Homo sapiens: one gene and its partner. The protein of the gene in region 1 purifies or fractionates together with the protein of each later gene. This does not show direct contact. Each region holds a gene or a part of one and is shown on either strand. Other genes may lie near its edges.

Region 1 (3,097 bases):
GGGCTGCCGGGCCCTGTCTCTGGGAGGCCTGGGCAGATCTGCCGCTCCATTCACAGGAGCCCGACCCGACTTGGGCTGCCACATTTTAAACTTTTTCAACCTCCTGGAGAGGAGGGCGGGCTGCGGGGGCGGTTTGGGGGAGGATGGTGGGAAGGACGATGGAAACAAACTCGCAACACTTTTCCCAGGATCTGGCTCCTGAGTGGGATCGAGCTCCAGGCTGGGGCCGGGAATTTCGAATGCTCTGCGGGCACATGGCAGGCCTGAGGGTGTGGGGGGGAGGGATTGGGAGAGGGAAAAGCAGAGGGTGATGGTCGTGGCCCAGATGCCCAGCCAGGACTGGCGCTGGGGACCCCAGGGACCCAGACTGCTCAGGTCCTGCAGCCCCCCAGTCACCTGAGCACCCCTCTGCCTGGATGGAGTTAGTTCTGGAACAGCATGTGTGGCTTAAGTGGCTGTTAGCCAGGGCCAGGGGTCGGGGGAAATTCAGGCTCATCATCTAGAGCTCCTTGTGGCACAGGCTGGACAGTGTCAGCAGCAGCAGGGGCTTGTGCCCCCTCCCCCCCACCCCTTAGGCCTCCCTGCTCAATGCAGACCCACCACGGCCAGTCACATAATAAACATATATTAACAGATGTACAATTTGAGAATTCTAATTCAAGAAATACAGCTTCCAGAGGATCCTTTAGGATCTATGTTCTTATTGCACATGGCTCAGCCCGTCTAGGGACATCTACCAAGACCAGATGGTCGGGGCGTGGGGGCAGAGCACCGGGGCCACAGTGGGTAGGCACTCTGGCCACATCAGTTCTTATAATCTCTCTGGGCTGAAGTGGCTGCTTCATTGCAGGGTTGGACCTTGTTTAAAAACCAGATTTGACATTTCCTTACCGAACTTCCTTTCCCAGCAAGAATCCTATTTGTTGGGGGACTTTTAAAAAAAGAGCCGAGAGAAACTCTGGGAGGGTGGTTATCACCTCCTGGCTGGCAGCTTGGGGAAGTAAGGCTTTGGAAGACGGCGGGCGCAATGACACACCCACCGCCACAGGAAAACATGGTCATTCCAGAAGGCCCAGGAGAAACTGTGGGAATAAATAAAACCTCCCTCCTCCCACTGGCGGCAAGTGCTGTTTTAAGCAAAATCCTCATTTCAATGTGAGGGTAAGAAAACTATTCTGGTTCAGGTGTATCCTTTGTCCAAGGTACGAGAGGAGGCCTGGCGGTCACATCAACAGCGAGTGAAGACAGAGGCAGCCACGGGCACTGCCTTTTCTTCAGGAGTCGAGGAGGCTGCCCTGGGGTCCCGGCACCACTGACTGACTCGGAGGAAGAACTTTCTGAAGTCCTTGGTGCATGACTTAGGAAAAACCAGTGGCAATGATGGAGCTGTGCCCTGTGGCACCTATAAGGCAAAGCCCACTGAGGGACTTAGGGGTGGGGAAATGGTTAGGTAGATCCTGGCCCCCTCTGCAGGCCTTCCCTTCTGTGGGCAGGGGGCTGGAGGGCTCCTGGGCACCAGGACAAAGAGCCCACCAGCGCTGCTGAGAGGGGAGAGGTGGTCTCACCCAAGCAGGTCCTTGTGGGGCCTCTACTGTGACTCAATACTGACCTGGCACCTGCCTCCATGGCCTGCTCCTCTCCAGGTTAACCATAATCCTGAGGCCTTCGCGGGTTCACACTATCATGATTACTGCTGCCATCAAAACCAGGCTGGGGTTTCGGGGGGCTGTGAAAAGCTCTGATGCGACTCTCCTTATGCTGTCAGCTACAGCTAATGTCTAGCAAAAACATCACCAGGGTACCTTCCCCAAACAGGCCTCATTTTCTAAAACATGGAAGAAATCAGCTCAACAACTTAACCAAATCCCTGCAGAGTTTAAAAAGTAGACTATATATATATATATCTTCATATATGCCTATTTACATATAAATAGATATATATACATATACACGCATCTATAAATTACATTCTATGGAGAGTTCTCTTTCTTCCTCCTATCTTTGGCCAGGGCCTCTGGCTTCTCCTGAGAGGTGGCTGGTGGTGGCTCCTGTGAGGGAGGAAAGGCAGCTGGGTGCCCCCTCCCCCAGCCCTTCCCACTGATATCTGCTGCGAGTTTTACATTCTACTTTCGTTGCCATGGTTTCTGTATCCTAGGAGAGAGGCGATGCGGAGCCTCCGCCAGCCCTGCGAGGGAGGGAAGCAGCCCCATGGCAGGTTTTCTGTCTGTCCTAAGAGCTTTCTGCATTTACTGGGTGAGAGAGAGGGCAGCTGTGCAGCGTTCGGCCTCCAATTCCATTTTAATTTTGTTTCTTTGTTTGTCTTTCCTCAAATATACAGTCCATCACCTTGGCTCAGTGCATGTCACCAAAAATTCTCCAGGGATTTCATAGTCTGGGGAGGAGAGTGGCAACAGTTAGCTCGGCATTCAGGCGGCACCGGCTCCTCTAGCTTATGCCACACAAGTAGCCCCCCTTGCCACTGCACCGCTGCACCGTGCTGCCCGCTCGACCCCCACCAACCCCACTTGCGGCCTGCCCTCCTGCGGCAGCACAGAGGCAGGCACAAATGGCCTCCAGGCAGAGTCAGCCATGGATCCAGGCCGGGAGGACACAGGCAAAGGAGGGGGTGGGCAGGGCACCCACACAGAGAAGAACCTTCACTGCTTCTGCCCACACTTCTCTGGGCTTGGCTGAAGTGGCCACCTCTGGCAAACGCTGGGAACAGAGCCCAGCGCCCCCATTCGCCGGGCTGCAGAAGGAGGGAGCCTGCTACCAGCAACTCTCATTTCCCCTCCACCCCTCCTGTGCTGAGCGGCTGCGTCTGACCCTGAACTCATGACCTTCTGTTCCCTTCCTCAGACCGCAGGCGAGATGCCTGGGCAAGGCCGGATGCCTGTGGCTTCCAGGCTGCCAGGTGTGACGGCATTCGAGAGAGTGCCTCAGATCCCACCAGAGGGGGGTGGTCAGGGCCCGCGGCCCCTGCCGCCACCAAGACTGCCAGCTCCCACCCACCTCGTGGCTGCCTGTTCATCTTGCTCCATTTCCTCCTAGCTGGAGGGATGGAGAAAGGGGAGGGCTCTTGGCCCACCTATTCCCA
Region 2 (3,705 bases), about 45 Mb from region 1:
CAGTCTCACTGTTGCTTAGGCTGGAGTGAAGTCAGGCAATCACAACTCACTACGGCCTCAACCTCCCTGGGCTCAGGTGATCCTCCCACCTCAGCCCAAGTAGCTGGGACTACAGGCATGAACCACCATGCCCAGCTAATTTTTCTATGTTTTGTAGAGATGAGGTTTTGCCATGTTGCCCAGGCTGGTCAGTCTTACCCTTAAAACCTGCCTGGCTGGGTGCGGTGGCTCACACCTGTAATCCCAGCACTTTGGGAGGCCAAGGCAGGTGGATCGTTTGAGCCCAGGAGTTCGACACCAGCCTGGGTAACATAGTGAAATGCTCTCTACAAAAAATAACAAAATTAGCTAGGCATGGCAGCATGCGCTTATAGTCCCAGCTACTCAGGAGGCTGAGGTGGGAGGATCACTTGAGCTTGGGAGACAGAGGTTGCAATGAGCCAAGATCACAGCACTGCACTCCAGCCTGGGTGACAGGGCAAGATGCTGTCTCAAAAAAAAAAAAAAAAAAAAAAAAAAAAAAAAAAAAAAAAAAAAGACCTGCCTTCATGAATGGGTAGCTTCAACATTCAAATGCAATACATAACCAATCTCTCCACTAAGTTCCCACATCTATTTCCAACTAAGATGCCTCAAATTCAACATACATAATACTGAAATTGGGCCGGGCGCAGTGGCTCATGCCTGTAATCCCAGCACTTTGGGAGGCCGAGGTGGGTGGATCGCCTGAGGTCAAGAGTTTGAGATCAGCCTGGCCAACATAGTGAAACCCTGTCTCTACTAAAAATACAAAAAATTAGCCAGGCATGGTGGCACGCGCCTGTAATCCCAGCTACTCAGAAGGCTGAGGCAGGAGAATCACTTGAACCCAGAAGGCGGAAGTTGCAATGAGCCGAGATAGCACTACTGCACTCCAGCCTGGGCAACAAGAGCAGAACTCTGTCTCAAAAAAAAAAAAAAAAGAAAAAACAAAAACAAAAAACTGAAATCATAGAGCTAGGCATAGTGGTGTGTGCCTGTAGCCCCAGCTACTTGGGAGGTTGACTTGAGCCCAGGAGTTCAAGTCCAGCCTGGGCAATATAGCAAGACCCATCCCCTTAAAAAAAAAATGACAAAACCCACAAAAAACCAACAATAAAACACCTACTAAACTTATTTCTTAGGTTGCAGTGAGCCGAGATCATGCCACTACACTCTAGCCTGGGCAGCAGAATGAGACTCCATAAAAAAAAAAAAAAAAATTTATTTGTTGAATACATGTCAAAGACTCAATAAACAATACTCTTCCCATTCTATTACCTCTTACAGTTTTGCAGCTAAAGTACAATTGAATTTTATATACATATAAAATTTTATATATAGATTTTATTTCAACAGCTTATGGGGTACAAGTGGTTTTGGTTACATGGATGAATTGTATAGTGGTAAAGTCTGGGATTTTAGTGTATCCATACCTACATAGTGTACACTGTACCTAATACCTAATATGTAGTTATTTTGTCCCTCACCCTGAGAATTGAATTTTTACAACCATGCAATATAGAACTGTTCTTAGCCCGTGTCCAGGTTCATGAACAGAGAGGTGCCTTAATAACATTTAAATCATTGCTGAAATGCTGCAACTATTATCTTTATTTTTTAATTTTTTCCCCAGACACCATGGTGACTATTATCTTTATTTTATAAAATGATGTTTCTAGTGAACAGAGGGCCTTCAGCTGTTATTTTTTAAGAACCTGACTATTTAAGCACATTGTTCCTAAGAAAATAAATAAGCACAAAAAATATTATTACCCTTAGAAGGATTCTTATTTCTTGTTCGATGGCAGATTGGGTTTCTGGACTTAGTTTCCCTGTATCACTGTAGGTCATAACTCCAAGCTAAAACCAAAAGGAAGAAAGTAATTGAACAGAAAACCCCCAAACACCAACAAATTTGAAAGAGAAAGTACTATCCTATATATAAGGAAACAAATATATGGGGGACAAGAAAGAAGTACAATAGAAAACTGCATTTGAGGCCGGGCACAGTGGCTCACACCTGTAATCCTAGGATTTTGGGAGGCCGAGGCGGGTGGATCACCTGAGGTTAGGAGTTCGAGACCAGCCTGGAAACACGGAGAAACGCCATTTCTTCTAAAAACACAAAAAATAGCTGGGCATAGCGGCACGTGCCTGTAATCACAGCTACTCAGGAGGCTGAGGCAGGAGAATCGCTTGAACCCAGGAGGCGGTGGTTGCAGTAAGCTGACATTGCGCCACTGCACTCCAGCCTAGGTGACAGAGCGAGACTCCGTCTCCAAAAAAAATAAAAATAAAAACTGCATTTGAGGGCAAAGAAATTTCCACATTCTTCTGAAAGTATAAAGACTAACATTTAGCCAGGCATGGTGGCAGGTGACTGTAATCCCAGCTACTTGGGAGGCTGAGGCAGGAGAATCGCTTGAACCCGGGAGGCGGTAGCTGCAGTGAGCCAACATCACGCCACTGCACTACAGCCTGGGCAACAGAGCAAGACTCCGTCTCAAAAACAAAGAAACAAAAAAACACTAATATCAAAATAGTAAAAGTATGAGCAAGACAGAACATTTAAAATCTTTTTTTTTTTTTTTGGAGACAGGGTCTTGCTCTGTCACCCAGGGTAGAGTGCAGTGGACTCACTGTAGCCTCGACCTCCTGGGTTCAGAGAATCCTCCCACCTCAGACTCCCAAGTAGCTGGGATTACAGGCACACACCACCATACCTGGCTAATTTTTGTATTTTTTTAGAGATGGGGTTGTGCCATGTTGCCCAGGCTGGTCCAGAACTCACTCCTGGGCTCAAGCAATACAGTCTCCTCAGCCTCCCAAAGTGCTGGGATTACAGATGTGAGCCACAGTGCCCAGCCTAAAATCATTTTAAGTCTGGTTCTCAGTACTTTCTTGAAAAACCTTGGCAGCTACTTCAAATATAGAAATCCATAATTCACAGAGTATAGTAGTGCTTCAAGGAACAATGACAAGATGAAAATATGAAATAGAGGGAAACAGTAAAGTAACCAAACTTAGAAAGTAGACTCTTTCATGCCACATGGAAAAGCTAAGGAATTCACCTTGCTTTATCACTTAATTAACTCGTGAAGTAATAGTTACTATCTGGGCAGCTCATTCTCAGCAGCTAAGAGAAGGTCCATTTTCTTTATTCAGAGAATAACAATGTTCAGAATAAAGAGCCTCAAATCCATTTGGAGTGAGAGAAAAAGTGAATATTACCAATTTATAATCAGAACCAGCTCTCAAATCAACACTTGACACATAATTTGATACATGAAAAGGATTTAAAAAATCTATTACCTTTTCACTCATTCCAAATTTGGTAACCATCCGCTTTGCTATTTTAGTGGCATTATCAAAATCACTGGAAGCACCTAAAATAAAATAAAAACATACCATTTTAAAACATATCTTTAAGACCACATATAATTTGAACTAAAGCCATTCTTTAAAGCTAACCTGTTGTAATATGGTCGGTTCCAAATATAAGCTCCTCTGCCACTCTTCCTCCCATACTAACATCCATTTGTGCAAGCAGCTGGGCTCTAGTTTCATTCCATCTGTCATTCTCAGGTAACAGGGACACCTAGACAATTAAAAATTAATCAGATAAAAAATAAGCAAAGAGGCTGGGTGCGGTGGCTCACGCCTGAATCCCAGCACTTTGGCAGG

The links.
Region 2: the proteins of DNAJB12 (region 1) and YME1L1 purify together in Homo sapiens (affinity purification with mass spectrometry, with the first as the bait; one large-scale study listed by BioGRID). This does not show direct contact.

The regions. Positions count from the first base shown.
Region 1 is NC_000010.11:72,332,226-72,335,322, forward strand, and holds the end of DNAJB12 (dnaJ homolog subfamily B member 12), read right to left. Parts: exon of another isoform or gene 2,393-3,097; coding exon of another isoform or gene 2,363-2,392; 3' UTR 638-2,362; downstream 1-637. UniProt on the Homo sapiens protein: Acts as a co-chaperone with HSPA8/Hsc70; required to promote protein folding and trafficking, prevent aggregation of client proteins, and promote unfolded proteins to endoplasmic reticulum-associated degradation (ERAD) pathway.
Region 2 is NC_000010.11:27,112,727-27,116,431, forward strand, and holds part of YME1L1 (ATP-dependent zinc metalloprotease YME1L1), read right to left. Parts: intron 3,620-3,705; coding exon 3,493-3,619; intron 3,408-3,492; coding exon 3,334-3,407; intron 1,882-3,333; coding exon 1,795-1,881; intron 1-1,794. UniProt on the Homo sapiens protein: ATP-dependent metalloprotease that catalyzes the degradation of folded and unfolded proteins with a suitable degron sequence in the mitochondrial intermembrane region.